Homo sapiens: one gene and its partners. The protein of the gene in region 2 interacts with the protein of the main gene of each other region in a biochemical or structural test. Each region holds a gene or a part of one and is shown on either strand. Other genes may lie near its edges.

Region 1 (3,648 bases), on a different chromosome or scaffold from region 2:
TGTGGGCGTGACCTGGGCCCAGGATGGGAGTGGGGGCAAGATTTAGATTGGTTGGTGCCAGGGGCGGAGTCAGAACCTGAGAATAGTGTGGATGCGAGGTCTGGTTTTGGGGACGGACCCGACACCCAGATTAGGTGAATGGCTGAGGTAGGCCAAGACCCCTATGCCAAGGGTGGCACGTGAATGTTGGCGTGGGACTGGGGCTGGTTTCCAGGGGCGGGGCCTAAGAATCTAAAACCCAGTGCAGTAATCAGGAGGTGGGTATTGGAGGGTTCCCCTAGCAGCCGGTGCGTTGAGGGAGGGGCAGCCTTCTCTCTGAGCCCCTCCCTGTGTTCTCTTTCCCAGGAGACGAACTCACCAAGCTGGGCGAGGAGGATGAGCAGGGCTGGTGCCGTGGGCGGCTGGACAGCGGGCAGCTGGGCCTCTACCCTGCCAACTACGTGGAGGCTATCTAGAGGCCCCCTCCCTCCATACTCCCGTCACTCCTCCCCACTGCCGCCCCTCCCCTCCCACTCTCGTCTCCTTCCCCTCGCCATAGAGTTCCAGACATATTTTCCGATCAAGCTTTTATTTTTTTAAAAGTCAAAACAGAACAAAACAAAGTATGCAGAGACAGAGCATTTGCAGGGCCACCTGGAGGCTGGGGTGCTGGGGCTTGGGGTGGCCCCAGGGTAGGTAACAGTCTTAGGACTTAGCCCAACATCACAACATCTGCTCTTCGGGTTCCACCAAAGAGTCTCCTGAGCCCTGAGGGATGGATGTCTCCTGACCCTTCCACCCCGCCTCACTCCCTCCGTCCCACTCCACTCCAGGCTGCCGGCACCTGCCCCATTCCCTGGCCTGGTTTCCTAACCTCTTCTTCCTCCCCTGCCCTGCTTCCCTTCCTCCACCACCCTGCTCTCAAAGGCCTCCTCTCCAGACCCCTGGAAGGGAGGCTTCCCCATCTTTAGTTTTCCACTCTGCCCCGGGGAGCACCCTTCTACTCCTAGCCACGTCCCTTGGGACCGGTGGGACTGGAGGAGGAACGGTCACCCTCCTCCCCCATGGAGGTTTCCAGGGGTCCCCCAGACATGAAAGAGGGGTGAGCTGGAGGAAGTCATGGTGTCACTGGGGTACAGGAGGGTGAATGAAGGGCATGCAGGCCCTCAGCCCGGGCTGTGCCAGCCCTCCCAGCCCCAGGCCCATCTGAGGGACCAAGACGCTGTTACGCAGGCCCTTCTTTCCAGCTATCAGCACTTTCAGCATCGGCTCTTCAGCAGATCCAAACCCCCTCAGCAACTTGCAGAGGACCTGTCCCCTCTCAAAAGTCCCCTGGCCTAGGGTGGGGACCCCCAAACCTACGGCAAAGCCAGCAACAGTAGCAGCCTGCTCCCATTTGCTGGGGAGGAGATCATCTTGTTCCCCTGGCCCCCCACTCTCCCTCCATGTCCATCCAAAAACCATAAAATCACTGGGTTCCACATCAGCCTCCATGAGGCCAAGCCTTGTACCTGCAAGGCTCTTGGCCTAACCATTCCTCTGTCCTCTTCTCTGGCCTGCCTGGGGAGCCCGTGAAGGCCGCACGGGTGCCTCCAGCCTGAGACATCAGGGGAGAGCCTGCAGCTGAGTTCAGCAGAAAGGAGGAATCCTGGCCCTCAGGAAGAAGATAGTCACATGTTTTTCTTCCTTGTCCCCACGGCCCCCAGAACAACATTCTCCCTGCTGGCAGCCCTTCCATGTCTCCAAACCTGGGTCAGAGTGAAAGGACCTTTGGGGGTGGGTGGGAGCAAAGGGCCCACCTGCTGGTTGGTGAAAGCAGTGGTGCCGGAGTGCTAGGTACCGCACGAGAGGGTGCGGGGGCTTGGGAAGCAGACCAGGGTTGGACAAAACCCCATGAGGGCGGGGAGCTGGAAGAAAAGTCTCTTGGGGACCTCTGGGGCAAGGAGCTGAGAAGTCCTGCAGCACCAGGTGAGACTTGCTTACAGTGGATGCCACTTCTAGGCCTCTGGACCGCAGATGCCCTCCTCCCTCCTGCACACCTGGCCTCCTGGGCCTCCAGGTAAAGAGAGAGAGCCAGCCCAGCCCTGTTTCCCCTCAGTCCTCCTTTGCTCCTGCTGCTTCTCCCAACAGCCCACTGTTAGGAGGTAGTAGACCCCAGCCTCAAGGCTCTGACCTTCTTCATGTGGGCACAGAGGGTCCTGACACTCTGGCAGGGCCTGAGCTGGGGCAGGCCTCCCTCAGGGCCAGGGGCGATGGCACCCCGGGGACAGGCAGACCTCCTTCCTGCCGTCAGCACCCCCTTCCTTATCACTGTCTGGTCTCCGAGCTTCGGCTGCAGCCTGAGGTGTGTCCTGGGCTCCTCAGAGCCTGAAGCAAGCTTTTGGAAGCCTGCAGTCCTCCCAGCTCCAGTGCAGAAGCCTCTCTCTCCAGCCTTTCCCCAGGCAGGAGTTGGGGTTGGGGGCCTCTGTCCCTCATCGCTTACCTTGGAAAGGTGGGAAGCTGGCAATCTGCACCTTGGGGCCTGGGCTCCCCCTCTCTGTGCCAGCGGCTTCCCAGCACCTGGGAGGGGCTGCAGCCCCAGCTGGACTCCAGCCTGTCCCTCTTAGCACTCTAGCTGCCCACTCCAGGGCAGGGACTCGAAACCCCCTCCGTCCTGAGCAGCCACCTCCAGGGCCCTGTTTGGGACCACTCTCTCAGTCCCCAGGTCCTCAGGGCCCCAGAGCGGGAGGGTCTCCTACCTGGAAGTCCCCCTGAGCTCCAGGGCCCAGCCCTACCTGCCAGTGCTGGTGTCAGGGCACTCAACACCGAGTGTGGGGGCCACGCCCCTTGCCATGCCCACGGCCTCCTCCTGTAGCTCCTGCCTGCACCCACGATGCTGCACGGGCCCGCCCTGGTGGGGCTCGGCGAGTAATGTGTTTTGTCCCCAGTTAACCACCATTCTGCGGCCTGGTTCTGCAAGGAACCAGGGCTGCCCCACCGCCCGCCGTCTGCCGCCCTAGGCTTCCTGACTCCATTAGTTCCGACACTTGTGAAACTCCGAGAAGTGCTGTGGTCTCAGCAATGCACCTGTTTTGTACATGATTGTGTAATTTAAAGGTATATAAATACAAATATATATATATATCAGTTGTGATTGTATGACTGTGGATAAAATCCAGAACTGTGTCAACCTGGCTGCGCATTGTCATCTTGAGTCTGTGCACCTTCAGTCCTGGGGGTTTCTGAGCCCTCTGAGAGCTATTTGTGGTTGGGATGCAGGGGGGTAGGGGTGGTGCCCGAGCAGGACTGGGTGCTGTCCTGGCCCACCATCCACAGACTAGGCCACTGAGAGCCGGTCCCTTCGCCCTGCGGGGGCCTGGGTCTTGTCTGGACTGGGGAGGGTGATACTGGAGGCTCCTGGAGCTCTGGCCCATTCAGGTTCCGGGTGCCTGGTGACAGGCCCTGACCAGGAGAGCTGGGGCATTCAGGGTTCCACATTCATGGATCAAGAGTGAATGAGGTCCTCAAATAGGTTTTGCTTTTTAAAGCAGAATTCTAAAAGTGACTGCTGAGGCCCACGGTTCCTGGCTGTCCACAGTGCCAAGCTCCCTGTGCGGTGATGTTGGGCTGTGCCATGCCTTCCTGCGTCTCGCCTGGCTCTGAATGCATTTCTGTGTGGGACCCGTGGGA
Region 2 (9,633 bases):
TGCACTCCAGCCTGGGCAACAAAAGTGAAACTCTGTCTCAAAAAAAAAAAAAAAAAATTGTAAGCCAAAGCTGCTTTAACAGCTGCTCCCTTGGAGGGGAATGAATTCCCTAGTTCACTTAAAGTCCCAGTCTGATCTGTCATTACTTACTAAATGTTCATCCAGCCCTTGCAGGCATTTAAATTTACAATGCTCAGCCTAAATAGGTTTACTGAATGATTTATGAACTCAGATCATAACTTTAAGAAAGATAAGGTTGATGGTAATGATGATAATGAAAACAACGACTAACACTTCACACTGTGAGCCAAGTCTTGTTCAAGCAGAAACACATAATACCTATGTATATATGCTATTACTATTCCCAATTTACAGATGAGAAAACTAAGGCAAAAAGAAGTTAGGCAAGTTGGCCAAGATCATACCACCACTACACAGTAGAGTCAAAATTCAAAATCAACCTAACTCCAGTAAATACTGTTAACTCCTACAATATAATCCTTTAGACTAAAATCCTTTCCTTTGTGACCAACTAAATTTGATTATTTGGAAAAATAATCAAGACAAAATTGTAGAACCTACTCTTTCTTTGCACGAATGAAGGCCTAACAAGCAAATCAAAGTTCACCTAAATGCAGATGGTTATTTCTGGAGCTTATCTTGTCTTAAAAAAATAAAAAATAAAAAGTCCATCCTGGCCAACATGGTGAAACCTCGTCTCTACTAAAATACAAAAAATTAGCCAGGCGTGGTGGTGGGCACCTGTAGTCCCAGCTACATGGGAGGCTGAGGCAGGGGAATCGCTTTAACCTGGGAGACGGAGATTACAGTCAGCCAAGACTGTGCCACTGCACTCCAGCCTGGCGACAAAGCAAGACTGCATCTTAAAAAAAAATAAAAAAAAAAAATGTTCTCTTGTAACTGACAAAGAAAAGGTTGCAGAATCCAGTAAAATAATAAACATTTTCTCAGAAAGCAAGCAAGTTAGTAGATATTTCTGGAGTGAGTTAAGCTCAATATGTAGATGAATTCTTAACCTGTAAGTGACGACATAGTATTAAAATTCTTCTCTTTTCTGGGACAGAAGGATAGATCTATTAGGGTAAGCAATTTCCAGACATGGAAAAAAAAAATGCGAGTTGCTGGAGGGCAGAGATTGCTTTTTCACCATAAGTCCCTGCAATGTCTAGCATACAGCAGCACTTAAAATACATTCAATTATGTTAGGCCGAATGCCTATAATTCCAGCACTTTGGGAGGCCAAGGCAGGCGGATCACCTGAAGTCAGGAGTTTGAGACCAGCCTGGCCAATATGGTGAAACCCCATCTCTAGTAAAAATATAAAAATTAGCTGGCCATGGTGGCAGGGACCTGTAATCCCAGCTACCCAGGAGGCTGAGGCAGGAGAATGGCTTGAACCCAGGAAACGGAGGTTGCAGTGAGCCAAGATTACACCACTGCACTCCAGCCTGGGCGAGAACAAGACTCTGCCTCAAAAAAAAAAAAAAAATACATTTGGCCAGGTGCAGTGGCTTATGCCTGTAATCCAGAACTTTGGGAGGTCGAGGCAGGTGGATTATTTGAGGTCAGGAGTTCAAGATCAGCCTCACCAACACAGTGAAACCCTATCTCTAGTAAAAATACAAAATTAGCTGGGCGTGGTGGCACATGCCTATAATCCCAGCTACTTGGGAGACTCAGGCAGGAGAATCGCTTGAACCCAGTGGGTGGAGGCTGCAGTAAGCTGAGATTGCACCATTGCACTCCAGCCTCGGCAACAAGAGAAAAACTCCGTCTCAAAAAAAAAAAAAAAAGGAATACATTCAATCATGTTAAAGGAACCAAAAAATCTGAACTTAATTTCTTAAATTGCAATGCAATGAAACTCTTGTAACATTTACCAACTTCCTTTTTATAATAATCAATCACTGGCAAGGAAGTCTGTTTTCCTGACAAAATCCTTAAACCAGGAGTTTTATATTTGAGTACCCCTTGGAACCTAGCACAATAGCAGCTCAACAGATCCTTGTCAAATATTACAAACTTAAACTTTCTATACTTACGTTTCCTACAGGTCTCTCAGTGCCAATGTTTAAAGTAGAACTTAAAAGGCCGGGTACGGTGGCTCATGCCTGTAATCCCAGCACATTGAGAGGCTGAGGCAGGCAGATCACGAGGTCAGGAGATCGAGACCATCCTGGCTAGCACGGTGAAACCCCATCTCTACTAAAAATACAAAAAATTAGCCAGGCATGGTGGCGGGTGCCTGTAATCCCAGCTACTCAGGAGGCTGAGGCAGGAGAATTGCTTGAACCCGAGAGGCGGAGGTTGCAGTGAGCTGAGATTGCGCCACTGCACTCCAGCCTGGGTGACAGAGTTAGATTCCCTCTCAAAAAAAAAAAAAAGTAGAACTTAAAATAACATGGTTTCTCATTTATAAAGCATCAGACATTATGAAGCCTTTTTTTTTTTTTTTTGAGACAAAGTATCCCTCTGTCACTCTGTCGCCCAGGCTGGAGTGCAGTGGCGTGAACTCGGCTCACTGCAAGCTCCGCCTCCCAGGTTCACACCATTCTCCTGCCTCAGCCTCCCGAGTAGCTGGGACTACAGGCGCCCGCCACCACGCCCAGCTAATTTTTGTATTTTTAGTAGAGACGGGGTTTCACCATGTTAGTCAGGATGGTCTCGATCTTCTGACCTCGTGATCCGCCCGCCTCAGCCTCCCAAAGTGCTAGGATTACAGGGATGAGCCACCGCGGCCGGCCGAAGCCTTATTATAAGATATTTCTGATATCAGTCATATATTGTGATGTCAACAAAGCCATGAAAAATCAGTGAGTTAGCACATAAAGCACAGAATATAATAGAGTGAGCTGGAAAGAACCTGAGAAATCATATTCAAAACATTCAATAGATAAGTGAGGAAACCAGGCCCAGGGAGATTTAAGTGAGCTGCCCAAGATCACAGAATTTAAGTGACCAGTAATACCAATGGTAGAACGCAGGTTTCCTGAATGTTGGCTCAAATACCTTTCCACAAAGAACTGCTTTGTGAGCTTGAGATGAAATGGATATGCTGAGAAATATTTTAAAGATATTTTAAATACTTTAATAATACTTTTAAATATTTTTTAAATTGCTTTATAGTAGCTATCACAAATCATTCCACCATCTCCTTCCTTTCTCTTGATTATAAAAAAGAACAGGACCGGGCTCAGTGGCTCACGCCTATAATCCCAGCACTTTGGGAGGCAGAGGCGGGCAGATCACCTGAGGTCAGGAGTTCAAGAGCAGCCTGGCCAATGTGGTGAAACCCCGTCTCTACTGAAAATACAAAATTAGCCAGGTGTGGTGGGTGCACGCCTGGCCTCCCGAGTCCCAGCTACTCAGGAGGCTGAGACAAGAGAATCACTTGAACCCAGGGGGCAGAAGCTGCAGTGAGCCAAGATCGTGCCATTGCACTCTAGCCTGGGGAAGGCTCCATCTCAAAAAAAAAAAAAAAAAAAAAAAGAAGAAGTGATTTTATTTCCTTTGGATATATACCCAAAAGTGGCAATGCTGGATCATATTTTAGTTCTATTTTACCAGTATCTTCCTATTCAGTTTTTTTTTTTTTTTTTTTGAGACGGAGTCTGGCTCTGTTGCCCAGGCTGGAGTGCAGTGGTGTGATCTCGGCTCACTGCAAGCTCTGCCTCCCAGGTTCACACCATTCTCCTGCCTCAGCCTCCTGAGTAGCTGGGACTACAGGCGCCCGCCACCACACCCGGCTAATTTTTTGTACTTTTAGTAGAGACGGGGTTTCACCTTGTTAGCCAGGATGGTCTCGATCTCCTGACCTCGTGATCCACCCGCCTCGGCCTCCCAAAGTGCTGGAATTACAGGCGTGAGCCACCGCGCCCAGCCTCAGCTTTCTTATCTAACAATTCACCTGCTCAACTTCATTCACTCCCTATTCTCTTACTGCTTAACTTTATGTTCTACTTTTTTTTTCTTACCCAGTAGTCTTCCTTCTCTCCTGACCTTTTAAAGTGATCTGTCTTGTCCTCATGTTTTCCTTCACAATACTACTCTCAACTTCTCTCACCTTGTGGATCTAGATAACATTTCTTTTCTTTTTTTTTTTTTTGAGACAGACTCTCACTCTGTTGCCCAGGCTGGAGTATAGTGGCACGATCTTGGCTTACTGCAGTGTCCACCTCCTGGGTTCAAATGATTCTCCTGCCTCAGCCACCCAAGTAACTGGGAATACAGGCACATGACATCACACCCTGCTAATTTTTGTATTCTTAGTAGAGATGGAGTTTCACCATGTTGACCAGACTGGTTTCAAACTCCTGACCTCAAGTGATCCGCCCACCTTGGCCTCCCAAACAAAGTGCTGGGATTACAGGTATGAGCCACCGTGCCTGGCCAAGATAACATTTTAAGTCATGAATTCATTTCCTTTTCTAAAGATTTAATAGGTATTATTTTATTTGATCCACACAACAATGCCAGGGATGGAGACAGGAATCAATACTTACCTATTTTACAGATGTATAAACTGAGGTCTGGCAAGATTAAATAACTCGCCGAAAGTCACACAGCTTGTCAGTGGCAAAATCAAATCGGAACCCAGATCTTTTCTTTCCAAGTCCTCTATTCTTTCTGCACTGAACCATGTTGTCTTTTTTTTTTTTTTTTTCCGAGACAGGGTCTCACTCTGTCACCCAGGCTGGAGTGCAGTGGCGTGATCATGGCTTACTGCAGCCTCAACCTCCTGGCTCAAGTGATCCTCCCATGTCACCCTCCCAATCAGCTAGGATTACAGGTACACGCCACCACACCAGCTGATTTTTTTTTATTTTGTGTGGAGTCAGGGTCTCGCCATGTTGTCCAGGCTGGTCCCAAACTCTTGGGTTCAAGTGATCCTCCCACCTTCGCCCCACAAAGTGCTGGAATTACAGGCATGAGCCACTGCACCTGGCCATGTTGTCTTCTTTTTCATTACCCACCTCTTAATCCTACACATGCACATGTCTAGATAGTATACAGAGATAAACGTGTATAAAACAACACAAATAGAAAAAGTATGCATATGTATAAGGGATCTACAAAAACAGAAAAGTCAGAAAACCCAAATTAAGAGCACAGTGTGGCTCACAGGCTAATCCCTGCAGAGGCAGCTTTGGGTTTCAGAACCAAGTGAAGCTGCCTATATGTTCAACCAACTGATGCAGCTAGCATCAACACTGCTCTCTCCTCACAGCAGGTATAAGACCAGAGCTTGGCCTCTGCATCACTCTTGCCCCCAATTTCTCTCACAGGATGACACCATACCTGAAGTTCTCACAGTTTGAGTCACTTCCTTGGGTTAAGGCGTTGTCTCCACAAGGCCACCGTGAAATGCATGGTACCTGAGAAAGGAAGGAGAGTCCATTAACACATTACTTCTATATTTTTTTGTTTGTTTGTTTTTGAGATGGAGTCTTGCTCTGTCGCCAGGCTAGAGTGCAGTGGCATGATATTGGCTCACTCCAACCTTCGCCTCCTGGGTTCAAGCGATTCTTCTGCCTCAGCCTCCTGAGTAGCTGGGACTACACTACGGGCGTGCACCCCCACGCCTGGCTAACTTTCGTATTTTTAGTAGAGATGGGGTTTCACCATATTGGTCAGGCTGGTCTTGAACTCCTGACCTCGTGATCCACCCACCTCAGCCTCCCAAAGTGCTGGGATTACAGGCGTGAGCCACCACACCCAGCTGACCTCTATAGTTAAACACATCAGATCTGCAACGACCTTGCGACTCTAAAAGCACAAAGTCTCTTTTAAAAATTTCATGGGATAGACAATTTTTAATGGAGCAGACAGGACAAAAGAAAGAACTGAGGGAAAATGATTCATACGTATTATGGGAAGACACCAATCTGAGTATGACGGCTATCTGGCAAAATGAGGATGGCCATATAAATACACCAGCCTATAAGGGTCACCATAATGATAGTCCCTGCAACTTGGAGACTCCTAGGGACAGGAAAAGAAAACGCACACCAAGGATCTGGATATAGTCAGTTCTGAAAAGAAGCAAAAAAGCTGAGCTGGCAGCAGTTTTTCAAGGACAGTACACTGCTAGACTGGAGGAGGATAGAGGCAGGAACAGCTTCTGGTTAACTGCTTCTAGTTGTGAGGATAGTTTCCAACTTAACGTTTTTAGCTGAAAGCCAACCTCCCAACCAGAGAATGCTGCAATTCAATTCTGTGAACCCCCTAACTAATTTATATTGACTCAAAGCCAGTATCATTTACAGCCATAAAAGTCAACATGCCTTTACTGAGTGCTTATTATGAGCCCAGAATTTGGCTAAGTACTATAAATACAAAAAAAAAAACCTTACATACTTTTGTCTTAATTCTTATAAAGGAAACCAATGTCCAAAACCCAAAACAGAGACTTAGGCAACAAGAAAGAAAGTGGCAAAACAACAAAACAGATGACTATTTCCTATCAGTACTAACACGAATTTTTTTTTTTTTTTCTTTTGAGACAGAGTCTCATTCTTGTTGCCAGGCTGGAGTGCAGTGGCACAATCTCAGCTCACTGCAACCTCCGCCTCCCAGGTTCAAGTGGTTCTCCTGCCTCAGCCTCCCAAGTAGCTGGTACTACAGGTGCATGCCACCACACCCAGCTAATTTTTTGTATTTTAGTAGAGATGGGGGTTTCACCACGTTGGCCAGGATGATCTCGATCTCCTGACCTCGTGATCTGCCCGCTTCAGCCTCCCAAAATGCTGGGATTACAGGCATGAGCCACCGCGCCCGGCCCTAACACAAATTTCTTAAGACAGAATGAATATAACAAAACTTACTTCTAGGCCAAAATTCCTTGTTAAACTCTTGCCTAAACAGTCAAGACGCATAGGCTAAAAATCTCCCTTTTCTTTTTCTAGTCTAATACCAGAAGCTCTTCAGTAGTGCACATTGATCTTTGTAAACCAGAGAATACCAGTCCCAGAGTTGCAAAACCCAGTTCTAGTTCTAGTTCTTACTCTTAACTAGTTTCAGGTAAATTATTTAACCTTTAAAACAAACAAACAACAACAAAACAGAAAACTAAGAGATTGGACTTATCTAAGAATAGCATATATTTGGCACATGTCTACTACCTACTAGGTAACTGTCCACAGGAGACATCATTGATCAACCATAATACAATTTCTCAGAGCACCTACAACCAGAATCCTTCCAAACACAGTGCTTCTGGCAGCTTCCAATTAGAGCTGGCCAATAAACCAAAATATATTTGCCATTATGGACTAGATAATCTCTGTAACTTCTCCCAACTCTAAAACTCAATGAGCAAGTTTCTACAGGCTGAGAGAAAAACACTCCCAACAAGCCTAGATCAATACTTTTTAGAGGCATAAATTTCAGTCCAAACTCCAAGTTCTAAATTAGCCAGGCTTGGTGGCATGCACCTCTAATTCCAGCTACTTGGGAGGCAGCTACTTGGGAGGCTGAGGCACACGAATCGCTTGAACCCGGGAGGTGGAGGTTGCAGTGAGCCGAGATCACATCACTGCACTCCAGCCTGCATGGCCGAGCAAGACTCCATCTCAAAAATAGTAACAATAACAAACTTCAAGTTCTCTTCCAAATTACACCTGACATAGTTCTTTCTAATTTCTCAAAGATGCTAATGAACAATTCACTCTCATACTATACATAACATATATAACCTGGCAATATTATTCAGACTTGCTAATGGGTTCTTTTGACAGAAAAGGAGCCCTTTACCCAGATTAGCTCTAAAAAAAAATCCTCATCTAGAAATATGGCAACAATATTGCACTAGTAAAAAGCTAAATCCAATCCTTTGATCATCCCCACAACCTCTCTCCAAGGTCAGGCTTTGTCATTTCTCAACTAGACTTCTGCAATAGCTAGTCCCTCATCCTTTCGCTCATCACCAGAGCAATCTTTCTTTTTTTGTTTTTTGATACCTATCTTTGTCCTGCAGTACACAGCAATTTTCTAAAACACATATGTACTCACATCATTTCCCTGTCGAAAAATCTGCATCTATTTCTTTTTTTTTTCCTTCCTTTTGGTAAAGACGGGATATCACCATGTTGCCCAGGCTGGTCTCAAACTCCTGAGCTCAAGCGATTCACCCGCCTCAGCCTCCCAAACTGTTGAGATTACAGGTGTGAGGCACTGAGCCCAGCCCTGTATCTATTTCTACCAACATAAAATTCCAAATTTTTAGCATTATACTTAAAATTTTTAGCCAGAGCACAGTAGCTTACACCTGTAATCCCAACACTTTAGGAGGCCAAGGTGGGAGGACCACTTGAACACAGGAGTTAAGACCAGACTGGGCAACGTAAAGAGAACCTTTCTCTACAAAAAAATTTTAAAAATTAGCCAGGCATGCTAATGCATGCCTGTTGTCCCAGCTACTCAGGGAGGCTGGGGTGGGAAGATCACTTGAGCTCTGGAGGTCCTGTCACTGCACTCCATCCTGCGTGACTGGGTGAGACCCAGTCTCAACAACAAAAAATCACTTTTCATATACTTGCTTCCTTTAACCTTTCTGACCTTGCGTTTCAAAATGCTCTCCTTCCCCATTCCACTCCACACTCCCTGAACCCTTTTTGTTCCATAATCCTCTGAATTTACACACAGCATTAAGGCATTCACTCAGCCTACCCTGTCCTTCTCTTTCCCCGCCCTTTTCACACTCCTACTCTTCATGTAAGACCCAATGTGGGTTCAGGGGCAAATCTTGCCTCTTCTAACCAATCCTCCACCCAGCCACACACACAGAATTGGCCACTTCCTCTTTCGTCTCAAAGCTTTTTGACCTTTCCTTGGTAAGTCTACAGTACCATTTGCCCTCAGTGGTTCCCAAGACCATCAGAATTACCTAAGGCATGTGTTAAAAATAAATTGGTTGAAGCCAACCCAGACCTACTAAATCCATCTCAGAAGGTAAGACCCTGGAATTTCTAAGCTCTCCTAATTATTCTAATGGTCAAATTTGGGGACTACTGGTTTGTCTGCCTCTCCCAATAAGTGAAAAGATGTATTTTTTAGGGCCAGGAGTGGCGGCTCATGCCTGTAAACCCAGCACTTTGGGAGGCCAAGGCAGGTGGATCACGAGGTCAGGAGTTCGAGAGCAGCCTAGCCAATATGGTGAAAACCCATCTCTACTAAAAAATACAAAAAAATTACCGGGAGTGGTGGCACGCGCCTGTAGTCCCAGCTACTACGGAGGCTGAGGCAGAAGAATTGCTGGAACCCGGGAGGCGGAGGTTACAGTAAGCCGAGATCACACCACTGTACTCCAGCCTGGGTGACAAAGTTAGATTCCGTCTCAAACAAACGAAAAAGATGTATTTTTTTCTAAAGAATGTAGAAATGTTTGATTCTAGAATACACTGAAGAAGTAGTCTGTACTCATTTTTTTAATTTCATATGATATCCTTGGTGACTTGACCTGTATGCTGAATGTAATGGAATTCCTTTTGGACTCACAAAACTTAAATTCACAGTTCAAAGAAGCAGTAGAATTTCCACCTTCATTTCTAAATTTTTTTTTTTATTTTTTGAGACAGGGTCTCACTCTGTCACCCAGGCTGGAATGCAGTGGCA
Region 3 (9,633 bases), on a different chromosome or scaffold from region 2:
TGAGACCCCAGGGCCCCATTTTCTGTCCCAACTTGGTGGGAAACCTCATCCTCACAGCTCCTCGACCCTGAATCAGCCACTGAGCGACTTTCCGGGTGCCCAGAAGCGGAACGCAGGCAGGTTCCTGGAAGGCGGTGCCCCGGGAGGGCATGGGAGCTCCGAGCTTTCCTCCATGACATGTAATAAAACGATGCTGGGGACTTCCTGACACCAGGACGTGAGGTGCCTGCCCTGTGTGCCCAGGGCCACGGCTCCCCACCCCGAGGGTGTGCCTGGACGGAGCTGGAGCCGCCGGAGTGCTGATCGGGGGCATCTGTGGTCCTGGGAGCCCTGAGACGCTGAGATCAACGCCCAGGCGGCTGTGGACCCGCGACGAAGCTTTGCTGGATGCCTGCAGAGGCAGCTCCCGTCCCACTAGATGCACCTGGTCACAGGGAGGAGGAACTCTGGGGGCTTTCTGGCCGCCCCTGTCCCGCAGGCTGGGGGATGCTGCCCAGGCCTGTCTGACCCAAGTCATGGGAACGTACAGGCCGCGGGACCCGGCTGCTCCCCGTGCCTCCCAGGACAGGCCTCCCAGATCCACACCTGGCGTAGCCAGGGTCCCAGTGGGACTGGCCGTGTGCAGTCACTCATGGACGTGGAGGCTGCCTCTCCCTCCCAAGCACAGCTTCTCTGGCCTCTCATAAAGTAGTTTTATTTAGATTTCAAACAAACCAAAGCAGGGAAAAGAGTCGGCCACGGTGAATCCGTCCACTCTGTGCTGGACGTGGCTCCAGGACCTGGAGCTGACAGGCAGGACCGGGCCCCTCGGACCGCTACACCTGGGCCTCCCAGGCTGGTAGTGTCAGGAAACGGCCCCCCGCCCACGTTCCCAGCAGCGCCCCCGTGGCTCCTCCGGGGTGCGGCCAGTCCGGAAGCTGGGGGACCCCGGTAGAAGTCGGGCTCAGCTCCCCTCCCGAGGGGACAGGTGGGCCGGCCGCTCCCACCCTGGGCCCGTCCACCGAGCCCCGAGTGACGTGAGTGGCGGTGGGGCAGCCCCTCTTCTCTGAAGCACGTGAAAACCCAGAACAGACATGGGGAGGGAGAAAAAGCCAAAACGAAACAACCAGAGGAGACGGGGACCAGCACAAAACCTCCGTGAGGTAGTCTGTCGTCTAAGGAGCCACGGGTCCGGCCCTAGTGAGGTAAACTCGGCAAGTTTATTCTGGTGGTGTCAGGACTCCTCCGTGCCAGAGTCATCCTCATCGTCCCCGAAGCAGCTGTCGGCCTCCTCCTCCACCTCGCCGTCCTCGTAGTAGTCGTCGTAGAAGAGGTCTGAGCCCTCGTCGGGCGCCGGCGCCTTGGTCTTCACGCAGTACTCGGCCAGCGTGGTGGGCACCTTCACGCCGTCACGCTCCGCGTCCACCTTGGTCCCCAGGACCTGCTTCCTGGGGGGACAGGGTGGGTGAGGGCGCCACCCACGTGCCTGGACTCGGCCCCTGCCCGGCCCCCCTCCCCCAGGTCCGACGCTCACCCCAACGCTCAGGTTTCTCTTAAAACGGCGTGTGGCGACCACTTAGGACAAAGCCCTGTGCGTGAGGAACTCCAGGGGGAGAAATGACAGAGGAGGGGGCTCGGGAAGGGCAGGAGGTGCGGGTGGGAGGCTGGACGGGCGCAGTGCAGTCACACCCGCCTGCCCCGCCCCGAAGCACAACCCAAGGGACCCATCAGGAGCTGGGAGAAAATAACGATGCCGGCAACAGGGAGGGCCCATGCTGCCCCACTGGGGGGCAAAAGCCTTCCTCAGCGCAGGAGCAAAGGAAGCAGCTGGGAGGGCCCAAGGACAGGAGGCAGGACCATCCCTGGAGACGGGAACCAGCACAGGTGAGATGGGAAACGCAAAAACGGCCTGAGCCTCTCCGTGGCCTCAGCAGGATTCTAAACCCGGGGGCCTGGCCACCCCGGCCTCCGGATTCTAAACCGGGGGGCCTGGCCATCCCAGCCTCTGGATTCTAAACCCGGGGGCCTGGCCATCCCAGCCTCCGGATTCTAAACCCGGGGGCCTGGCCACCCCGGCCTCCGGATTCTAAACGTGGGGGGCCTGGCCACCCCGGCCTCCGGATTCTAAACCCGGGGGGCCTGGCCACCCCGGCCTCCGGATTCTAAACCCGGGGGGCCTGGCCACCCCGGCCTCCGGATTCTAAACCCGGGGGGCCTGGCCACCCCGGCCTCCGGATTCTAAACCCGGGGGGCCTGGCCACCCCGGCCTCCGGATTCTAAACCCGGGGGGCCTGGCCACCCCGGCCTCCGGATTCTAAACCCGGGGGGCCTGGCCACCCCGGCCTCCGGATTCTAAACCCGGGGGGCCTGGCCACCCCGGCCTCCGGATTCTAAACCCGGGGGGCCTGGCCACCCCGGCCTCCGGATTCTAAACCCGGGGGGCCTGGCCACCCCGGCCTCCGGATTCTAAACCCGGGGGGCCTGGCCACCCCGGCCTCCGGATTCTAAACCGGGGGGCCTGGCCACCCCGGCCTCCGGATTCTAAACCCGGGGGGCCTGGCCACCCCGGCCTCCGGATTCTAAACCCGGGGGGCCTGGCCACCCCGGCCTCCGGATTCTAAACCCGGGGGGCCTGGCCACCCCGGCCTCCGGATTCTAAACGTGGGGGGCCTGGCCACCCCGGCCTCCGGATTCTAAACCTGGGGGGCCTGGCCACCCCGGCCTCCGGATTCTAAACGTGGGGGGCCTGGCCACCCCGGCCTCCGGATTCTAAACCTGGGGGCCTGGCCACCCCGGCCTCCGGATTCTAAACCTGGGGGGCCTGGCCATCCCAGCCTCTGGCAGGAAGGGAGGACAAGTTAGCTCAAACTTCCTGGAGGGCACCGTGTACACCCGGCCCTATGAGGGGCTGCACCGCGCACACCAGGACCTACGAGGAACCTGCCCCCGGCTCCACCTCCAGGACACGCGTCAAGAATGTCCCCCCAGGACTGGAAGCAAAGGGGCTTCCGGGGGTGGCACAGCAGGGCCAGGCGGCACGCTGACCCCATTTGACAGAAAACAGGAACGAGGCTGCAGCCGCAGGCAATGGGCTCGAGCCCCTATCACCGACCAGGCACGGCTCTGGGCTCTGGGGCTGGCTGCTACCAGGGTGTGCGGGTCCCACAGTGCCCGCATGGGAGGGCACCAGGGAGCAGACAGACAGCCCCAAGCCCAGCCCACAAGCCCAGTGCTTTTTATGGGGATGCATGACGCGTGGAGGGCAGGCGTCTGGCCTCAGGGACGTCCCTGGGTGGCGGGACCCAGCGGACGCCAAGCTTTGCTTTCCAAGCTCTCCGATGGGCTGGGGGGGTGACTGACAGTGCCCCGGGGACGGCACTGCACGGGTGGCAGCAGTGGGGAGACGCAGGGGAGGGCCAGGGTGGACGGGCTGGGGGGGTGACGGTGCCCCGGGGACGGCACCGCAGAGGTGGCGGCTGTGGGGAGACGCAGGGGAGGGCCAGGGTGGGAACTGACCTGCACCGTGGAGGTGCCGCCGGCACACCGCCAGCATGAGCTGGAGGACGGTCTGGAGGTCCTGTTCAGCAAGACCAACATCCCTGACCAAGCCGGGCTCCACGGCAGCCTGCCCGACACAGCTCAGCGGGACTTGGGCTGCCACGAGGCCAACACGCACACAGATGAAAAAACAGGCAGAAACGGCGACCACAGCAGAGTCCACATGGCACATGTGTGTTGGCCCACAGGGAGTTTTGAGGGATAAAAATAGTGTGGCTTTTATTTCTGTGCTGGGATCTCAAGGAGGTGGTGCCTCAGGGAGGTGGCCGGGAAGAACCGGGCCAAGGAGCCAGCCACCTGGGCCAGGTGACACGACCGGACCGGGGCCACCGAGGACATCTGCACCAGAGGGACGGCCAGGGCAGCTACCCTGTGACCTCCAGAGGCCAGCAGGTGCTTGCAGGCCACTTCCCAGGAGGCCGCACGGGGCCCGCCCACCATGGCTGCTCAGAGCCGAGACCGCCCAGCACCAGGATGCTGCCCCGAGATGACCCCACGACACCAGGTACCAGCGAGTGCAGGATGGAAGGTGCCCTGGATGCTCCTGGGTCCTGGGGCGAGGAAGACACATGCATTATGTGTGCAATATTTTAAAAGTTGTTTTTAAGATTCTGTTTATACAAAATACCAACAAAAATAGGTGAGGCCTCTGTGAGGAAATCTATGCAATATCACTCTGAGAAAAAAAAAAAATGGATAGGAAGGGCCTCTATGTAACAGGAAGAGCAGGAACCATTAAGGCCGTCAACCCGTAAAGAAAGCCTTGTCTTTGTACACAGACACGCACGTGTTTACACATTCATGTGAACACAGGCACCCAAGAGAAGGGGCTGTGGGGCTCAGCTCTGGGGCATGAGGGCGATGGGAGGAGAGGGAGAGCCGTGGGTCACCACACACAGCCACGCAAGCTAAGTGGACTGCAGGTACAGAAGGCGCCGGTAGGCGACTGCACAGCTGTACCCAGAGCTCACCAGGCCAAGAGCCTGCAGGGACGCACTCCAGACATGAGTAAGGCCAACACCCCTGACTAACAGTCAGTCACTGGGCACACACAGCACGACCCCATTTTTTCATTAAAGCACAGACACATGTTCCCTAACAGTCAGTCACTGGGCACACACAGCACGACCCCATTTCTTCATTAAGGCACAGACACATGTTCCCTAACAGTCAGTCACTGGGCACACACAGCACGACCCCATTTCTTCATTAAAGCACAGACATGCGTTAAACTGAAAAGCCTGGAAGAATCTATGAAAACACTAACCACCAGGCCAGGTGCAGTGGCTCACGCCTGTCATCCCAGCACTTTGGGAGGCCGAGGCGGGTGGATCACCTGAGGTCAGGAGTTTGAGACCAGCCTGGCTAAGATGGTGAAATCCCACCTCTACTAAAAATTACAAAAATTAGCTCGGCGTGGTAGTGGGCACCTGTAATCCCAGCTGCTTGGCAGGATGAAGGGGGAGAACTGCTCCAACCCGAGTAGTGGAGGCTGCAGTGAGCCGAGATCGCACCACTGCACTGCAGCCTAGGCAAGAGAGTATAACTCTGTCTCCAAAAAAAAAAAAAAAAAAAAAGGCCGGCCGCGGTGGCTCACGCCTGTAATCCCTGCACTTTGGGAGGCCGAGGCAGATGGATCACGAGGTCAGGAGATCGAGACCATCCTGGCTAACACGCTGAAACCCCGTCTCTACTAAAAATACAAAAAATTAGCCGGGCGTGGTGACGGGCGCCTGTAGTCCCAGCTACTTGGGAGGCTGAGGCAGGAGAATGGCGTGAACCCGGGAGGCGGAGCTTGCAGTGAGCCGAGATCGCGCCACTGCACTCCAGCCTGGGTGACAGAGAGAGACTCTGTCTCAAACAAAAAAAAAGAGGAAAAGGGGCAAGAAGCTGGGCTTGAACCTGGCTGGACCCTCCGCCACTCGGCCCGGCCTCCATCTGTGACTGGCACCCTGTAAATGGGCACCAGGAAGCTCCGCCACCCTCACCAGGAAGGTGGGGCTGGGCGGCCGTGGGACCAGGGGCCGGGGTGCAGGCCGGATCTGAGTCTCTCCTCCCGTGACGCCCCCGCCCGCCCTCACCGGATGATGTCTGTGTACTCCCGATCCTTCCCCTTGCTCTCTTTCCACTTCCTGTACATCACGGAGGCGTCCACGTTTGCGGGCGAGAAGGTGTTGGGCTCGTTCAGGAGGGAGATCACACTCAGGAGAATGGTCCTGTGGGGAGAGTGGGTCGGAGTGGGGCGGCCCGGGGCACCCCAGCCTTCCGGCTCTTCTCTGGCCCTGAGGGTCACGGGGACGCCTGGACCCACCCAGCAGGTGACCTTCACCTGGCCTCATGGCCTCTGCTTCTGTCTCAGGCCCCCAGAACAGCAGGGGCTGGACCTGCATCAGTCTCCTCCCTCCCACGCCAAGACCAGGGAGGGCAGCAAGGTGCAGACCCCTCCGTCAGACCCGGGGCTGCCCTCACACCCGCACGTCCTGCCTAGACTACACTCCAGGACACACGGGCAACACGGCCCAGTGCTTGTACCTGGGGACGAGGCCCAGGCGGCACACGTGGCACGAGGTGACCAACCCAGAGACGGCTGGGTAAGGAGAAGGCCCCAGGACTGAGGATGGCGGGACACCTCTAGGTGGTTCCAGACGGTGGGGCCGGCCTGGGGTCCTGGTGGGAGTCTGCACCGACACACGGTGCCGCAGGCCCCGTGAAAGCACCTACCGTGCAGGTACAGCGAGGCCCAGGACCGCCAGCTGGCAGGTCCCGAATCAGGCCTTGGCGCCACAGCCTGTGGGGGAGCCCGGCCTACCTGATGGTCTGGGTGGATACGGGACGGAGCCCGGCCTACCTGATGTTCTGGGTGGACACAGGGGGTTGGGCCGGCTTACCTGACGTTCTGCGTGGGGTTCCACCTCTCTGAGGGCAGCTCCCCGCTCTGGGGGTCGTCCACCGGCGGGTGGAGGATGGAGATACACACGTCCCCCGTCTGCACAAGAAGAAGACAGGTCAGAACAGGTCAGAGGTCAGCACGGGCTCCCAGTGCCCCAGGTCCCGGAGGATGAGGACGTGGAGGACGAGGACGTGAGGCTCCCAGCGCCCCGGGTCCCGGAAGGACGAGGACATGAGGCTCCCAGCGCCTCGGGTCCCGGAAGGACGAGGACGTGAGGCTCCCAGCGCCCCGGGTCCCGGAGGACGAGGACGTGAGGCTCCCAGCGCCCCGGGTCCCGGAAGGATGAGGACGTGAGGCTCCCAGCACCCTGGGTCCCGGAGGATGAGGACTTGAGGCCCGTGGGGGCCGCGCTCACCTCGTAGATGTTAGGGTGCCACATCTTGGTCAGGAACCGAAAGGCTGGTGGAGAGTATGGGTAGTCGATGGGGAACTTGAGGCGCGCCTGCAGGGGCAGAAGGCAGGTGGCTCAGTCCAGCCCAGCCCCAAGACCTGCCCCAGCTCACAAGGTGCCCAAGGCCATCCCACTCCCAGTGCTGGTGCCTGAGGGTGTGTGTGAGGGACACCGTATCCTGCCCAAGGCAGGGACTCTCACAGGCCTGGGGTCAAGTCCCCAGAAGGCTGCCTGAAGCCTTTTCTGAGTCACCCGAGCTGATCCCAGCTCCTACACAGTCCAGGTGGCCGGGACCCGGCCCAGCACAACTGCTGGGGAACGTGGGCACTGGCTGCCCGCGTGGCTCCAGGCCCGTGGCAGCCCAGGTCAGGCATATGGGACCCAGGCCAGGGGCACCCACCAGCAGACAGAATGGACTGGCAGGGGCTCCAGGCTCCCCTTGGATGGAGCTGAAGCCCAGGACCAGGGCTGCACCTCCAGGGCCTTGGCAGCCAGGGTGTGGGGAGGGTTAGCACAGATGATTGCTCAGTTAGCAAACACTTGTGACACCTGCCCTGGCCCAGGCCGTGGGAGGGGATGAGTCAGTATGGCCGTCTGCCCTCAGGTGTCCGGTCTTGGGGGGTCAGGCAGGCAGACCCATAGGTCACAGAAACCTGGCAGGACTCCTTCCCTGTCAGCATCGCCCCCTGTGGTCACCCAGGCCCTGGAGGTCCAGATCTGCTGGCAAGGACGGCCACAGAGGGAGGCCTGAAGCCACGTGCCAGGTGACAGAGCTGTCTGGCCTGCAGCCTGGGGCGTGATGCCACCCACGGCCCTCCTGGGCCACAGCAGGTAAACAAGGAAGCCTCACTGTTTTCCTGCTGGGCCCCAGTGCCAGACACAGAGGTTGTCTGGGTCAGGGGTCCTGGTGGCACTCAGCACTCCAAGGCACGAGAGCAGCACCCCCAGAGCGATCGTGGTGGAAGCCTGGACAGGGAGGGCACTCAGGGGGTCTTGGATCGTGGGCGAGGTCTGGACAGGGAGGGCACTCAGGGGGTCTTGGATCGTGGGCGAGGTCTGGACAGGGAGGGCACTCGGGGGTCTTGGATCATGGGCGAGGTCTGGACAGGGAGGGCACTCGGGGGTCTTGGATCGTGGGCGAGGTCTGGACAGGGAGGGCACTCGGGGGTCTTGGATCGTGGGCGAGGTCTGGACAGGGAGGGCACTCGGGGGTCTTGGATCGTGGGCGAGGTCTGGACAGGGAGGGCACTCGGGGGTCTTGGATCGTGGGCGAGGTCTGGACAGGGCGGGCACTCGGGGGTCTTGGATCGTGGGCGAGGCCTTGACAGGGAGGGTACTCGGGGGTCTTGGATTGTGGGCGAGGTCTGGACAGGGAGGGCACTCAGGGGGTCTTGGATCGTGGGTGAGGTCTGGACAGGGAGGGCACTCAGGGGGTCTTGGATCGTGGGCGAGGTCTGGACAGGGAGGGTACTCGGGGGTCTTGGATTGTGGGCGAGGCCCCTCCCGGACAGGCAGGGCACTTTGGGGGTCTTGGATCGTGGACGGGCCCCTCCTGGACAGGGAGGGCACGCGGGGTGTCTTGGGGGGTGTCCTCTGTTTGACAGGGAACTCACTGGTGCCCCGTAAGGCAAGTGACTTGGCCGCGGCCACAGAGCAAGGCTGGAACTTCAGTCTCAGAACTGTCCTGCGGTTCCCCAAGACTTCAGGCCCCCCAAGCCTGGTGCTGGGTTTCAGGCGGCAATCCTTGACAACAGCCAAGGCCTCATCTGTACCAAACCCCACCAAGTCCCAATGAGCCTCTTATTTTGGGCACCTCTAAGAATGTCTTTTCCCCGGAGCAAACCCAGGCTCAGAAAAGGAAAGCGCCCTGCCAAGGGCAGACAGCAAGTCGGCTGTGGAGGGCTCTCTCTGGCGGCCCCTGCCCCAGGGCTCACTTTGGCTCCTGAAGGAACAGCAGCTGCAGGCAGTGGCTGGGCAGCAGCGGCCCTGGGCACTCAGCAGGTTCTGTATTTCCACGCTCCCCCAACTCCCTCCCAGGCACAGCGGGAAGGGAGAGTCCTCGTGGGTGGCAGCACCCCCGTCTCAACACTGGCTTCTGAGGACTGACCCTGTGGCAGATGTCTAGAGGCCCCCTCCCTGGGAAATCCGGAAAACCGGATTATCCCCTAATGCTGGCCCAGGAAGCTCTGCCCACAATCCCTGGCAACCGGTCTGGTGGGCACAGCAGCCAGAAACCCCCATCCCCTCCTTCCAGAACAGCAGCCGCCTCACAGGCCTGGCTTCGAGGTGGGGCTGCGGCTCCTCAGCCAGCTGCTCCCCCAAGCAGACAGAAGGGGCTGGCGGAGGAGCTGCTAAAACCATTTGGCAACCTCGAGACCCAAACTCTGTTCCCTGTGTGGGGACGCAGGATTCCAGATGCAGAACCCACGGGCGTCCCACTCTCTGCTCAGGAATCGCCCCCAGCAGACCAGGCTGCTGCCCTCACAGCCGCTGAGCGGGTGCGGTTCAGACACTAATTAGCTCGGAGAGCAGACACATATCGTGCGGGAGGCATCGGTCCCTCGGCCCCACGCCCGCAGCTGGCCGGGGCAGAGCGGGCCGGGCCCTGCAGTGTCGTGTCGTGTCCAGGCTCTTGGCAGGAAGTGACGGTGGGAGGGGGAGATTCCTGGACAGGGTGCTCGTTCCCCACCGCTCACACAGGGCCCCTCGCTTTGTCCCTCTGGCCCCAAGAACGAGGTCCCTGAACGCTAAAAGA
Region 4 (6,550 bases), on a different chromosome or scaffold from region 2:
TGACCTCGTGACCCACCCACTTCGGCCTCCCAAAGTGCTGGGATTACAGGCGTGAGCCACCACGCCCGGCCAGCCCTTGTCTTTTGAGGGGACTCTTACTGACCTGTAACCCCTGAGTTAGAGAGAAGGTAGTAAAGCCTATGAAATAAAGCACTCATAGTACTCAGTAAACTACAGCACCCACCAGGTTTGGATGGAGCTATAACATTAGCTATAACCAGAAATACAGACGTCTTGAAAAAGCTGAGCACTGGAGCATGGTCCATTTTAGACCCACTTCAGGTTTTGCAGTCAGATTCAGAGGGACTTAGTGTGGTGCTGTCTCAGACAAGGAACATGAAGAACAGGAAGGGAATAAATGCTGTCTACCGTAGCTTCAAGAGCACAGGGGAACAGACTCAGGAGGCAGTGCGGTATCATGGCAGGGCAGGAAGAGGAGGACACCTCCAGTGCTAGTCCGATGAATTGGGTCAAGCACCGGTCTCAACACATCCACGCTCTGTGAGCTCTGGTTTCCTCACCTGTGAAGAAGGGCTAATAACACCCAGTATGCAAGGCAGGCGGTGGAACCGAATCCCAGCCATGCAACTTGTGTGCTGTGCAACGATGGCAAGTTAACCTGAGCCTGTTTCCTCATGAGAAATGATTACCTTGGAAGCTGCTTCTAACAATGTGACTAGAACCTTTAGGAAAAACACATAGCACAAGCTTGCCACAGAAGAGAGGCTCAACAAATAGAAAAACTTGATTTCCAGCGCTCTTGTTGGGAATAAATGGAAGTCACTGTGAATATTGCATACTGCCGAGAAGAGGAAAAAAATCAAGTTTCTTGCCTAGGACTTTCTGTGCAGCTCCTATGTCTTAGAAGATGTGTTTGGCTCCCTTTTGTGAAAGGCTTTTCCTTCAGTTTATTTACCTGTGTGAACAGAATTCAAAATTCTTTCATCATTTCGCTAAAGCTCAGTGAGGAGTGTCAACTCCACAAGCCAAAAAGCCTAATCCTACGTTGGCAGCCAGATTACACACATCTGAAATTGAACCACCAGAAATACCATACCCAGAAAATCATTTGATCTGTGAACTGAATCCTGTGAGGGTTCCGGGCCTCCTCAAGGCAGAAAGGGTTCAATTTGAAAGGCGGTTATTAGCCCTGTCCCATGAGAGGGAGCGGGAGATCCACATCTTTCCTGGGAGCCTCGTGCCTTGCACACACCATCGAAAACCTGTTCATCTGCACTGGAAGCAGCATGCAAATAAAACGTTTTGGCTCTATACCTTGAGTAGCTGATTATGTCTAAAACTGATGTAAGTTTGGGGATATATATTGTCTAGACCCTTCCACAACAGTTCATTCCAAATATATTTATCGGGTATTTGCACTCTAGAAATAATCCCTCATCTTCCCAAAACTCCTCTCGGGGGATTTTCTTGTTCATAATTTAGCTGAATAAGAGGTCTGACTCCATGTTCCTTTCTCCGAGTTTGTAAGGAAGAGCCCTTAATAGTCGCTAGTGATTTATATCAAGGACAAACAAGCTTTCAACATCTAACACTAACTCCGTATGAACTATTTGTAAGGATTCAGGATAAAAAGCTGGATGTTGATATCTTGTGTATCTTGTAAAGAAGGTTCTCTACTCAGTCTTGCCTCTTTTGTCAGTAACTTACTAAATGACCCCTGGGCAGGTATTGGCGCATTTTCCCGTCTGTTTAGAGGACAGAGGTGGTGACTGAGATGGTGCCTGCAGTCTCTTCCAGTTCACATTTGAGTCTGGGTTCCTCACCTTTCAGCTTACCTTTATGGTAGAGCCAGTTTAGGCCAAAGACAAAATCCCCAATAATGTTCTAATAAGTGCTCACTCGAAGGTTATAAATCACAGTGCACACAAACTCTGAGTTAAAACGGTGCATGGCCACGTACTGGAAATCTAAAGAGCATCATTATCAGGTTGGAAGGCAAGTTAACTTCTCTGGTTCCTTCTTTAAAGTCTGTAAAATACAAGGTTTCCCTGTGGTTCCTTTGGTATCATGTGCTGTTTATACAGAAAGAGTCCCACAACTTGCTTTTGAGACCTGCATCCTAAAACCAAAATAGCTCGTGATACAGCCTCTAAGTCATCATTTATTGATTTATAGAGCACTCATCACATGAATGAGGTGCTTTACAATACAGTAAACATCACAACAGAACTCACATAGTTAAATACAATCAACAAATTACAGAACTAAAAAAACTGAAATGAAGCAACATTATGTCAAATTTCAAAGATGCTGAGAAGTGGCAGTACAAAAAAGGTAATTCCACCAACTGGAGACCAGACGGGCAAAGATACACAGGCACCACAGCCCAAAGCGGGCAGATTCGTCGAGGGTGAGTGGGCATATCAAATAAAATCTCACAACCAAGAATGAAGGCCGTTAAAGATACTGACACCCACGTGATCACAGTACTAGTGGAATAACCTCACAAACATGTTACCTTAGTATGACACGTCAACCTCATATGGATTTTAAACTCAAAAAAGAGGCCAGAAAGCCACTCAGATCATCTATCCCATACAAGCACAGACTGAAATCTATATGCCTCTACGAGAACTTGGAATAAATTTAGGAAACAGCCAACAGTTCTACAATCCATAAGATCTATGGAGATGTTGTTGATGGTTGGCACAAGTTTAGGGGGAAAAATCATTTTCCTAAAGCAGAGAGGAATCGCCTCACACTGATGAGGCACTGGTGGGACAAAAGCCACCTCGTTCAGTGTCACCTGAATGTGGGTTTCGTATCAAATGTAGAGGCATTTAAATTTACATTATCAGATGAACACTGAGAAAGGCACAGATGACATCTCCGACAGAGGAAGGGAAGTTGTAACATCTATGTAGGCCTGTTTCAGTATGTAACACACTCAGGGCAGGTGGAAAAGCATGTGGAGACGCACTCATGCCTGGCTCTCACTTCCACTCCCGTAGAGCTAGCCCTAAAAAAAAAACCCACATGGTTTTATCAAACTAACTGCATTAAAGTGGCACTTAAAGTTCAAAAATAGTTGTCCCTGAGTTACTAGGTCATTTGCTGCTTGCTGAAGAGTCAGATCCCAAGTTTCACCTCAACAGATTGCTAGCAGAATTATAGCAATAGGAGAGCAAAATTTGAACTCCGTTTTGCCACAAGCAACCACCATGTGAACAAGTTCTGATTTTAAAAGGGAGGGATCCCATCTCTTAAAAGAATTTTTTTGTATTAGCCAGGCATGGTGGCATACACCTGTAGTCCTAGCTACTCAGGAGGCTGAGGCAGGAGGATCACTTGAGCCCAGGAGGTCAAAGCTGCAGTTAGCTATGATCGTTGCCACTGCACTCCAGCCTGGGTGACAGAGAGACCCAGTTTCTTAAAAAAAAAAAAAAAAAAGTAAAAAGGATTGTATTCCAAGTCCCTGGAGGGTGTGCAGTGCTGACATTTTGGGGCAACTATTTTTACAGTCTTTGGAAAAGGAAAAAAAAAACCAAGTCACAAAGTTCTTAAAGAAAACTGGGTTCTAATGAATCAATTTCCAGTCACAACACACTTACGAGTTTCTATAAGGTTTGTGGGTTTGTATAATGTTTACAGGTTTTTATAACGCTTCAGAGTAGAGGACAGGGACTTAGAAAAAAATCACTCTCTACTGTGACTACATCCTCAACCATTTTATTTCTGCTTAAAAAAGGACATACAACGTTTGTAGAGGTCTGGGCTCTTGGCAGGAGTTCTTTCACTCTTCTGCCAAAGCATTTCTCCAAACCCCACAGAGCAGAGATGCACGAATTCTCACTGATTCTCACAATCAAACACCATGTCCCATCTGCTACTGTCTCAAGTTCTATCCCTTATAAGCCAAAGACTACTTCCCACACACAACCTCACAACAAACATGAAGGAGCCTAAGGCCTGCCTTTAACACTGCACATGTTCATTTTACCATTTGCTGAAGTTGTTTTAGAAAACTGTATGATATGAAATATATTGAAGCTCAAACATTAATCACATCCAAGTGTACTATTGTTAGTGACGGGATCTATACGTCAAATAGCAAAGCATTTACCCCTGTAATGCTTTTAGATTCACAGAAGAATCTAGATAGAACCAAATACATATACTGCCATGGCCATGTGATTTTCAAGTATTAAAAGTTCATTTGCATAAGGAATCAACCTGAGATTTTCCTAAACCACTTCTCTGGCACTCAGTATTATAGCCTTCATTCAATACAATAAAAGCCAACAACTTGACAATTATTGAAAAAAAATTATATTTTGGAAGAACTCACTACATAAGGTGACAGAATTCCAAAATCAAATTACATGAAAATATACATCGCAATTTCTTTGTACAATAGGTGAGAAAAATCTGCAGTATAGAAGAATAGAGGCAGAGAAATATGAAGGACTAAGGAGAAGGGTATGAGAGTAAATAGGATTTGTAATAGCAAACCCAGAAGTTAAGTAGAAAGCCTGTAGCTGTGCATGCTTCATTTATCCAACCTTAATACCAGGCAACTGAAGAGGGAAAAGTCAGATTTGCTATTGTTTGGGGAAATTTTCAGTAAGTTGAATTAAGAACCATCTATTTTTAGTTCTCAGGGGTAATGACTGGGATCAAGAGCTCACAACGGCCAATAAATGTTATTGCTATATCCAATCCAAGAGGTGGGTGCAACTAGAATACAAAAAGGACAAAGCACCTAGTGATGACTCCTTCGAAGTCATCATTAAAAATCAAGTAATTGCTCATTAAGTATTTCAGTATTTGAACTAAATCATTTGAGAACATTCTGGCAGGTAAGAGATAAAAGCAAAGGGGAGTGTGTCAAAACAAAGAAGATACAAAAGTTTAGTAAGTGAAAAGAGTTTAATGAAGCCTCAAGGGTTTAAGGGAAATTAAATGGAAACTTTTAATCCTAATTGCTTTTCATCTGACATGCTTAAAGGAATCCTTTTAAACTGATAAGAAACAATGAATAGGAAAGAAAACCTGCTAAAATCTCTTAGAATTTACACGATTCTTATTCTACTACAAGAAAGCATTATTTGGTACAAGGTGTATTTGTGGATGTACATGAACAGTATATATATTATCCGGATCATGTTGTGCTATGTACAGGTCTTTACAATTCTTCCTGAAGGTTAAAACAGTTCATTAGAATTCAAAATGCGTAATCATCTGTAAGTTGGCACTTGTTAGGCTCTTGTCAGCATTGATAACTGGCATGTTTTATTGCAGCCCAGTTCCAGCCAGTGTTTGCCAACTTGTACAACAGAAGTCCAGCAATAGGTGGGTAGAGTGCAGGAAAAACAGTGCCATGTTTCTCAATTGGAGACCTACAACAACAAAAACAACATTATATAGTCAATTCATCAATTACAAAAGAATTAACTGTAAGTAGGTTTTATCCATATTAGATTTATTTGACAACAAATCCTTAATTTCATTCTGAGCTCACTTTGTTTCTATCTATTATGGTAGCTCACAGCCACGTGGGTATATTTAATTTTAAATGTAAATTAATTGCCATTAAGTACAATTTACAATTTAGTTCCTGAGTCATGCTAAGCACATTTCACGTGCTCAGTAGTCACATGTGGCTAGTGACTGGCAAGCTGAACAGCACAGCTGTATCCTTATCATCACAGAACGTTCTACTGGACAGCGCTAATTTAGATTTTTCAATACTTCAAATGTCTTTCAACTTATATTAAATCTAGAATCCATAAGAGAAGATTTAAAAGCCAAGTGATTTGGAAATTTACAAACATTTGAGGATGTTCAGAGAAACAACTTAAGATTGCCACACTTCCCAACTTGCTAAATTCTATCTAACTCACTATAGCTCCCTTCAAACCCATTTTCTCCACAAAGCCTGCCACAAATGACCCTCCATCCCAACCACAGTTTCTAAGTGTTTCAAATCTGTTGGCCTCGTATCATCCAGTTAGACTGTAAGTCAAGAACACATCTACATAAAAAGCAGCACCGCCTCATCGAGTTCTGATGTGCCAAGCAGCATGCTAAGCGCTTTACAAACTCATTTCCTGAATGCTCACAATCATCATTATGAAGGAGTCTCCCCTCTAAAGCTGAGACAAGTTCACATAGCCAATAAATGGCTGAGTTTCCTGTTCAAAAAGTTAGAAAAACACTAGGTTGAAGTTTTTGTTTGTTATTTATTTGAGACAGGGTCCCACTCTGTCCCTCATGCTGGAGTGTAGTGGCATGAACATGGCTCACTGCAGCCTCTGGGCTCAAGTGATCTTCACACCTCAGCCTCCCAAGCAGCTGGGACCACAGGCACACACCACCATGCCCAGATAATTTTTAATTTTTTTTTGTAGAAACAGGGTCCTCACCACGTCACCCAGGCTGGTCTTGAACTACAGGCTCAAGCAACGCTGCCACCTCGGCCTCCCAAAGTGTTGGGATTACAGGCATGTGCTACTGCACCCAGTGGTTAAAGCTTTAAAAGTCTCATTTGACTATTAGACTTTTCAGAGTCTTTATTATATTAATATGT

What was found.
Region 1: the proteins of ITCH (region 2) and PACSIN1 form a complex in vitro, tested with the Homo sapiens proteins (2 studies listed by BioGRID, with this or other methods).
Region 3: the proteins of ITCH (region 2) and CDC34 form a complex in vitro, tested with the Homo sapiens proteins (3 studies listed by BioGRID).
Region 4: the proteins of ITCH (region 2) and UBE2G1 form a complex in vitro, tested with the Homo sapiens proteins (2 studies listed by BioGRID).

Annotation. Positions count from the first base shown.
Region 1 is NC_000006.12:34,532,076-34,535,723, forward strand, and holds the end of PACSIN1 (protein kinase C and casein kinase substrate in neurons protein 1), read left to right. Parts: intron 1-345; coding exon 346-455; 3' UTR 456-3,148; downstream 3,149-3,648. UniProt on the Homo sapiens protein: Plays a role in the reorganization of the microtubule cytoskeleton via its interaction with MAPT; this decreases microtubule stability and inhibits MAPT-induced microtubule polymerization.
Region 2 is NC_000020.11:34,365,157-34,374,789, reverse strand, and holds part of ITCH (E3 ubiquitin-protein ligase Itchy homolog), read right to left. Parts: intron 5,397-9,633; 5' UTR 5,320-5,396; intron 2,089-5,319; exon of another isoform or gene 2,064-2,088; intron 1-2,063. UniProt on the Homo sapiens protein: Acts as an Acts as an E3 ubiquitin-protein ligase which accepts ubiquitin from an E2 ubiquitin-conjugating enzyme in the form of a thioester and then directly transfers the ubiquitin to targeted substrates.
Region 3 is NC_000019.10:533,133-542,765, reverse strand, and holds the end of CDC34 (ubiquitin-conjugating enzyme E2 R1), read right to left. Parts: intron 6,930-9,633; coding exon 6,843-6,929; intron 6,524-6,842; coding exon 6,426-6,523; intron 5,754-6,425; coding exon 5,619-5,753; intron 4,089-5,618; coding exon of another isoform or gene 3,776-4,088; exon of another isoform or gene 3,730-3,775; intron 1,428-3,729; coding exon 1,214-1,427; 3' UTR 679-1,213; downstream 1-678. UniProt on the Homo sapiens protein: E2 ubiquitin-conjugating enzyme that accepts ubiquitin from an E1 ubiquitin-activating protein, and catalyzes its covalent attachment to other proteins by an E3 ubiquitin-protein ligase complex. In vitro catalyzes 'Lys-48'-linked polyubiquitination.
Region 4 is NC_000017.11:4,267,157-4,273,706, forward strand, and holds the end of UBE2G1 (ubiquitin-conjugating enzyme E2 G1), read right to left. Parts: intron 5,361-6,550; 3' UTR 2,103-5,360; downstream 1-2,102. UniProt on the Homo sapiens protein: Accepts ubiquitin from the E1 complex and catalyzes its covalent attachment to other proteins. In vitro catalyzes 'Lys-48'-, as well as 'Lys-63'-linked polyubiquitination. May be involved in degradation of muscle-specific proteins.